Regions from separate parts of the Homo sapiens genome. Here regions 2 and 3 are each linked to region 1. Evidence: fine-mapped QTL for protein levels in blood plasma. A gene starts in region 1. Each other region holds a variant in brackets. All regions are shown on one strand. Distances are from middle to middle. Region 1 holds the start of WFDC12 (WAP four-disulfide core domain 12). Region 2 has its middle 13 kb from the start of KCNS1. Region 3 overlaps LOC101929863 (a long non-coding RNA gene).

What was found. PIP is the posterior inclusion probability: the model's chance that the variant is causal. Protein levels are from antibody-based Olink assays in UK Biobank. Linkage for the fine-mapping came from a reference panel and not from the study's own genotypes, which makes the PIPs less certain.
Region 2: its variant is fine-mapped to the plasma level of the WFDC12 protein (UK Biobank, PIP above 0.99).
Region 3: its variant is fine-mapped to the plasma level of the WFDC12 protein (UK Biobank, PIP above 0.99).

The regions. Positions count from the first base shown.
Region 1 is chr20:45,123,203-45,125,963 of GRCh38, forward strand. It overlaps WFDC12 (WAP four-disulfide core domain 12), which reads right to left and starts at 1,263. Exons shown (of 3, transcript NM_080869.2): 1 at 1,167-1,263; 2 at 905-1,063; 3 at 223-741. The coding sequence starts at 1,245. The coding sequence ends at 644.
Region 2 is chr20:45,086,770-45,089,530 of GRCh38, forward strand. No RefSeq gene overlaps it. Among named protein-coding and RNA genes, the nearest start is that of KCNS1, 13 kb to the right of the region's middle. The variant G/A (reference allele first, on the strand shown) is at 1,674.
Region 3 is chr20:45,135,603-45,138,363 of GRCh38, forward strand. It overlaps LOC101929863 (a long non-coding RNA gene), which reads right to left. Exons shown (of 3, transcript XR_936751.3): 3 at 1,836-2,295. Among named protein-coding and RNA genes, the nearest start is that of WFDC12, 13 kb to the left of the region's middle. The variant G/C (reference allele first, on the strand shown) is at 1,415.

The DNA.
Region 1 (2,761 bases):
ATTTATTCTGTAGAAAAGTTTAGTCTATTTATCCAGATCTTTTAAAATGTCATTTAATAAAGTTTTAGGGTTTCCTTTCAGAAAATTTCTGTACATCTCTAGATTTATTTGTAGGTATTTTATATTTTATTCACTTTGATAATGTTGAATAGGATTTTTTTTTTTTACTATTAGGTTGTCTTAGCAGGTTTGGGCTGCTATAACAAATTACCATAGACTGGGTGGATTATAAACAGCAAATATTTATTTCTTACAGTTCTAGAGGCTGGGAAGTCCAAGATCAAGGCACCAGCAGATTCAGCATCTGGTGAGGACCAGTTTCTCTTCTCTGACAGTGCCTTCTAGCTGTGATCACACATTGCAGAAGGGCAAGGCAGCTCTTTGGGGTCTCTTATAAGGGCACTGGTTTCATTCATGAGGGGTCCATTCATGAGCATTAGGGAGGAGCACCAGGTAGAGAGGGAAAGTACCGTCCCTGGGGTCTGGACTTTTTGTGACTCTTCCCTCTTTTTGGGGAAAAGGACTTCAAGCTCAGGTTTTCTTTGGTGGGGTTGGGTATTGCTTCTTCCATATTCCAAGTCTCAGGACCCTCAGGGGCAGGTGCCAAGTGAGAGTGACCCCCAGAGGTAGAAAGGACCCAGCATCATTTCTGAGGACACCTGGTAGAGGAGGAGCCTGGACACTTGGCCTCCCATCCTGGCTCAGGGTATGGCCTTGACACATCTTCATCCTTGTTTCCTCCTTTGGACAATGGAGATGTTCAGACTAGGTGGTCTCTGAGGGCCCTGCCAGCTTTAGCCATCCCTCCCCACACCAGCTAAAGGGACTAATTCCTCCGAACTTTCATGGGTCAGATAGAGGCAGGGAAGGGACAGCCCCAGCCCTGGGAGGCAGGTCTCCTTACCTTCTTCCAGTTCCTTCACAGGAATCACACACTTGAAGCCACAGTGCAGGTAACAACACTTCCTTTCCCCCAGACAGTCCTGGTCTGTGTGACACTGGGGAGGATCGGACTTGAAGCAGCGTACGTTGTCAGCTGGGCAAACCCCTGCTTTCTCTATACCTAGTGGAGGAAGCCACAAGGTGATATGAGAACTCCAGCCCCAGAGGGCCCCTCAGGACCTCTCCCCAGCCCAGCCCCACCCAGCTCCACCATGTCTGCTCACCCTCTTTAACTCCTTCCACAGCCACCAGGGTCACAAGAACGAGAGACACCATGAGGACCAAGAAGCTGCTGGACCCCATGTTGCCAGGCAGGTGCTTGGCTGGGAGCTGGGCTGAGCCTGGCTTTATAGTGTTCCTGCTGGGCATGCCAGTGGGTGGAGCTGAAGGCTCAAAATGGCAAGGGAGGCTGCACTTCCCAGCTCTATTTGGAAATGGCCCCTTCTGAGGAGGGACTTGGGGCTTTCCCTAAGGCTCTGCACTGGAATAGATGAAGAAATCCAAGAGCGACCCTCGTTCTTCACACGAGGAGAAGAAATGGACACGTGATTGACCATTAGGCGCCACCAGGGCCAAACTATCTTATGGAAGGAGGAAAAGAAGCACAGAAAGGGCATGAAATTACTCAAGTTCACACACGAGGCAGTGGCAGGGCCAGACTTCCTCAACTCCACCGTGTTCTCTATCAGTCCCTCTTCATGCCTGATTCACCTGGGACCAAAATCTTCCCTCCTTCCTGTGCTGCCCCGGACTTGTTCTCAGTTCTCACCTCACCCCAAGGAAGAATCTGAATGGCAGTGCTTAAAATGTCTGTCCTGAACATTCACTCTCAGCCTTGCGCTCCAGCACCGTGTGCTCCTGCCCCCCGCCAATCTCATGTGGCCTGGAGGAAAGCAGATTTTGGACCTGTCACCAGCTGTGTGACTTTGAAAGCAGCTTCACCTTTCTAAGCCTCCGTTTCCTCATTCATACAATGAGCATAATAATTATACTGTATCATCTTCATAGGATTTGTTTTCCCTCCTCTGCCCCTGCATCCCCCAAATTCCTGGATTTGGAAGAAGACATGGACGTGTGTGCGTGTGTGTGTGTGTGTGTGTGTGTGTGTGTGTGTGACCAGGCTTTTGGGGTCCTTTCTTTGAATGAGTACTAAAGGGAGGAAAATCCTTCCTGTTGGAAAAGTTGCAGATATAAGCCCAGAAACTCCAGAAATTTGGTCCTGGCCCTGGTGAGAGAGAAATTCTGAGAAGATAAATCTAAGATGCTGATAAAAAGAGATGAGAGATGGACAGGGAGTAATTTAGAGGATATCTAGTCCTTCACTAAACTTTTTCCTGAGATCAGCCCCACTCATACCCAGGGTTATGTTACCACCCAATACATTCACCTTTCTGCCTAAGCTGGTCTGAATTGGATTTCTGTCATTTACTAACAGGACCCCTGAGTAATGCAAAGATTTGGGTTTGGGGTGTTCCACATCCTGAAGTGTGGAAGGGACTGAGTTGGGGTTAAGTGGAGGCAGGGAGGATACCTCCATTCCTGGAAGTGAGCCTACTCCTTATTAGGTGGTGAATCTTTGGTTACAATCTCACCAGTCATATCACTGGACTCAGATCATTTGGATACCAGGGATGGAATCTGGGAAGTTCATAAACAAATACTAGAATGTTGGAATGTATTGGCTATTTCCTCCTCCACCTTTTTATTATGAACTTTTTAAACATACAGAAAAATTGAAATAACAGAACAATGATACTTGTATACCTACAACTGGATTTAACAATTATTAATAGTTTGGGATATTTTAGAATACCTATAG
Region 2 (2,761 bases), 36 kb before region 1:
ATAGTTCCTCCCATCTCACCCCGAAATCATGTGATGAGCATATGACCCAAACCAGTCTAGTTAGACTCAATCTTCAGAGAATTTTTTAGCTTGAGCAGAGTGATTTATACAATGGAGGCAGTTGTCACTAAGCTATTTTAATTGTAGTGCCCCAAAGAGGTGATTTATGAGTTTTACCTACCTCAATCCCTATGTTGCTCGAATTGCTGTCTTTCTCAAAGCCTTGTTGTTTAATTTGACTTTGATCCTATCCAGTACCTTTCCAATGCAGTCCTTTTTTGGCTTAAGTTTTCCAGAGTTGGATTCTGTTGTTTGCAACCAAAAATTCCTAACTGATACAGAAATTGGAACTAGAGTTGAGTTGTAGACACCATATCCTCTAGGAAATGTGGGATATTTCCTAAGACTGTGATGGGGCAAAATACAATGAGGTTGTTGCTCATGCTCTAGTCTGGGAAGCCAGCAATGGTCTGCAATGGTAAAGACCTATGTCTTACATTACTTCATAGCATCTGACCACTGAGGAGGCTCTCAGAGAAGGGATAACACGTGTCACAGTTAATTTTAAGGAAGTGAGGAGTGTTCAGGCTGTGTGATAGAGTATTTTGTTTCTAACCACATAGATTAATATAAAGGGAGAGTCAACAAAGGAAGCCCCAATGCCTTTTTTTTTAACATAAAAAAAATTCATAAACAGAATGAACGGACAGCATTTCTATGACTACGGTAAAAGACTCTCTTATGACTTGCAGTAGGGCCTAGTTCTCCAAATACCAAAGTTGGCAATTGATGATGCAGGCTGCTGAATTCACAGCCCTGCTGCACTTTGTGAAGTTAGGCATTAATAGGCAGTGGGATTATGACAAGTGGAATGATCATATGAGAGGATGTGGGAGAAAACTGAAAGCTCTCTAAAACACTGGGTGCAAACAATTCACACCTTTTCTTAGAGGAGAAAGCTCACAATTTTCTGCTTGCCCCATCCCTCAAGGCTACTTAGCTGGAAGGTGGGGATCAGTTTGGCCTAGAGCATGACAAGTAGACACAGTAGGTAAAAATCCTGGACCCATACAGAATTGAAGAAACTTGTTAACTGACACCATCAAAAATTTGGGGAAGTATCTGTGGAAATGGATTTTTGTGGTGCTTTATCAAGGAAGGGGGAATGTAATCTTGGCTCAGGCTGATCTTCTTGATATGGTTTCACTTGCCAGGGATTATTTGGCATTCTCTGTGCTAGCTCCAGGAGCTGGCAAGGCTCTAACAATGTGATGAGTTGGCTAATGCAAACTTAAAACAAATGCTGGCCCACGTGAAATGGAACTTAAGGGCCCCAAATCCCTTGGCATCATGTAGAAGAAGAGATTCAAAGATTTCTGAAAGACAGGAGGCTGGATTGGATCTATTTTGTGCCTCCTTCCCACAAATACCTCTAACTGTAGCCCTCACACTTTACCCTTGCTTTGAGGAAAGTCAAGAATGCTGGGTGGAGGGGCTGCAATTTGAAATAGGTTGCCTGATTCAGAGGGGAAGAAGAATGCAGAGATGTGGGAGGCCAGGCGTTGGCACTTCATCCTCAGAAATGAAGTGGGAGTGATCACTGGAATATTCAGTAGGCTCTGTATGAGGCAAGAACTCATGGTGTAGTGTTACAGGCCGAAATGATGAGGGTC[G/A]TGATCAACTCCATATACTACTGGAGGCTATATGAGTAAGCAGCAAACTGTTTCTCATAAATGCAGAATGTTGGCAAACCGACGAACTGCATCTGCCACCCGGCAGGAATGCTGAGGGCAGTCACGTCCCAAGCATAGTGTTTCTTGTGATTAGGTACATCTGAAGCCTGTTAGTAACAATATGAACCTGTGATCAGTTAAGCAGCTGACCAATCATTACCTCCTCCTCCCTGCTCTTGTTACCCAATAAATAGGAAGGACTGTGGAAGCTTGGGGGCTGCCTTTGCTCACTAGAAGCGGGGAGCTCTCTTCTTCTTCCCCGGCCCCTTCCTTTAAAATAGTTTCTTTTGTCTTAAGTTTTCATTTCTATGTTCGTCCCTTCATTCAGTCTTGTAATGACGGTCTCAGGCAGTAACAGTAGTAAGCTGTCGTAATGATGGTCTCAAGTAGTAACCGTGGCACACTGCCACAGTGTAGGGCCCTAAAAAGTTAAAGGCAACCCACTAAAGTCTTACTTGATTTGTTTAACCAGCAAAACATAAGAAACAAAGCAAAATGGAAACCAAAAACACCCTCTAGTTCTGGCAAAAAAAAAAAAAGTCACGACTTGAGCCACTGTGTAACACTGGGCTTGCGTTTATTGATCTAAAGCCCTTTGATTGAAGGATATGCTACTCACCTTTGAGGAAGGACTCTGCTATATTGCATGAGTGTAATGTGAATATTTCTCTTGCCTTCTCCAAAAGGATCTGTGGCCATTTCCCAAGGTAAATGGATACTGGGGAAAGGGAAATACACCATTCAGGGAACCTTGATGAAGACTTCGAGCTAATACCAGTTTCTTGGGTTCAAGAGTACCACTGTAGGTCCATCTATCATGTGAAAAAGTGTTTTGGCTTTTGTCCATGCCACTGGAGGCCTAATGGAATTCCAAAACTATTCTATATCAGCAGTTTCGGAGAGATAGTTGGAAAAGATCCCCATATTGGCTCTCTGACCCATGAAGTGAGGGCCATTGTGATATAAAAGGCCAATAGAATACAACTGAACAACTGTTTCAAAATAGAAAAGTCAACGATAGTAACATA
Region 3 (2,761 bases), 12 kb after region 1:
GGATGGGCCTGGATCCTGGGTCTGTTAGGGCAATCCTGGACCCTTTGTCTTCTGGACTCTGAGAACACAGAGTCTGGTCTAGAGTCTGGGTTTGGCCTCATGTTGTGGCAGTTGTAGTTCCTGGGTCTGCAGGGGCTTGTCTGGATCCTGGCATTGCAGATGCTGGCCAGTTTCCTGGAGACGTGTGTGCTGGCTTAGAGCCCGGGTCTGTGGGGACCTGCCTGGAGCCTGAGTTTACTGGGGCTGACCTTGGGGGCTGGGTGTGTGGGTGCTGGCCTGGAGGCTAGGTTCACAAGGGTTGTCCTGGGTCCTGGCCATAGGGGCTAGCCTGGAGCCTGAGTCTCTGGGGGCCAGTCTAGTGCTGCGGTCTACTGAGATAGGCTGGACCCTGGGTCTACTAGGGTTTGGGGCCATAGGGAACATCATGGTACTGGCTCAGAGACAGCTAGGGACAGTACTTTTGCCTCAGAGATCACTGAAATTATTCAAACTGGCCAATCTTGAGACACTTACCCTGCCTCACCTGCTCCTTCTTGCAGGAACCACAGAAAAGGTTTGCCCACATTTCTCCCTCACTCCCTCTATCTCTTGACTGAAAAAGGTGCTTTCTATGTGCCCCCCTGCCCTACCCTTCCCATGGCAAGGTGTGGCTCTCCTTTGAGATATGTGAGTATAACAAACTCTCTTTTAAAAGGCAGTAATCTCCTGATATGTTCGCTTTGTCATACCTAAATAATATTAAATACCTAAATAATATTAAAACCCAATTTTTTAAAAAGGAGCTTGGAAGGCAAAGGACTAGAAAATCAGTAGCAAGGATGTCTGTGGTAGGGAAAGAGGACCAAAATGTGAGGAGACATTTACTGTGAAGACTTGTGTATTACATATTAACACCTGCTGGGAAGCATCTATGATAGATTAGACCCTGACAGCCAAGATGAAAAACTCAACAAGTTGACATTAACCAGCTTTCTTTTTTCTTTTTTTCTTTCTTTCTTTCTTTTTTTTTTTTTTTTGCGACAGGGTCTAGCTCTGTCGCCCAGGTTGGAATGCAGAGGTGCGGTCTCCCCTTACTGCAACCTCTGACTTCCAGGCTCAAGCCATCCTCCCACGTCAGCCTCCCAAGTAGCTGGGATAACTAGCCTTCATCACCATACCTGGAGAAGTAACTGCAACACAAGGTAGAGGACAGTGGTGAGCATGGAAATGCACTGCTTAGATCTCCTGCTGCTTCAGGGTGTGCAACTGATGGATGCCCCCAGCTACTGTCCTCTGCATCTGCCACTATGTCTGTGCAGAAGTCATGGATGCTTCCATCAGGTTACTCCCAGCCAATGACTGAGTGAGGCCCGAACACTAAGGCAGGCTCATTCTGAGACCTGGGCCTCTTCTGATAGGTGACTTCAGTTCAAGC[G/C]TTGTCTTTCAGCCTGACTGGCACTTTACCAATGTTGTAATTCATTCTGAGACTCTTCCTCCTTCCTTCTCTCCTCCCTCAGAGCAGGCAGCCCTGCATCATGGTCTCATGCTCTCCTTGCCACTTTGGCTACCTCCCTTTGTCCCTCACAGGCATTTTCCCTGACACACACTCTTGATTACCTAATCCTGTCTAGGTATCTGCTTTTCAGAGTGAGTCCTAAACAAACCTACTCACCTATAGTTTTGGTTTGAATAGTTCAGGAAATGTTGAAAAAAGGGAGAAGAAGAGGAAGAAGATGGGAGAAAAGAACATGCTTTTTTTTTCCTTAATAGTTATTACTATCAAGTCAAGATGATTAAATTCCGTTAGAAACATTAAAAAGATTAAGGTTGCTTTTTAAATGAAAGGACAATATTCATCATATTCTTAAAAGTTTATTCTTTGTAACTATTATGCAATTATGATAAAAATGTTAGATGTCAACTTAAAGCATGCTAGGGAATAATTGGCTTTTCAAAATTTGTTTATAATAGTTACAAATAAAATTTTGGAAGACTTGTCCAGACTTCTACTACCTTTGTGGTCCTTAACTAAATGTGAAATATTAATCATATCCTTTTTTCAGATCCTAAGGGAAAAGCCATAAAGGATGGAGAGAGAGACAGGGAGAGAGAGAGGAGATCCAGCAGTCTTACAGATTTTTCTGTGGTTTTAAATATACAATGCTTTATCTCTTTGTCTTCTTGTCATATTAACAAGCATTTAACTCTGAAATGACATCTTGGGCCTGGGAAGATCATGGACAAATTGGAGACCAGTTATCCAAATCAGAGCCTGTAGCACCAGCGTCTCCTCAGGCTTGGCTAAGGAGTTTCCACCTCGAGAGAGAAGAGAGAATCAGGGATGTAGGAAGGTGAAAAGGTTCAGGGAAGGTTCAGCCTGGCTGGTACTTTGTCAATGCCAGGTGACATGGCATTGCAGGAGACATGAATTTGTGTCCTGGGGCACTGTGGCAGAAATCCTGCTAAGTACTCTCCTTCACAGAAAACTGAGATATGCTGCCCCAGAATCAGGGACTGGGGATCAGGGACTCTAGGCAAGCCATCCTAAGGAATAATGAATTTATAATCCCTGACCTTACAATTTAAATATGAAGAGAAAGGTGCTGTGAAAGGTATCGTGAAAAACTAAAATAATAACAATAAAAATTCAATAACCCTTGAGCAACTTAGAGATTATCTTGTCCAAATGTCCCCTTCATACAGAAGAGAAGGGTGATGCCCCTTATGTGAAATGGACAGTGCATATCCTGAGCAAGGAGGTCTATTGAGCCACCCGCTTCAC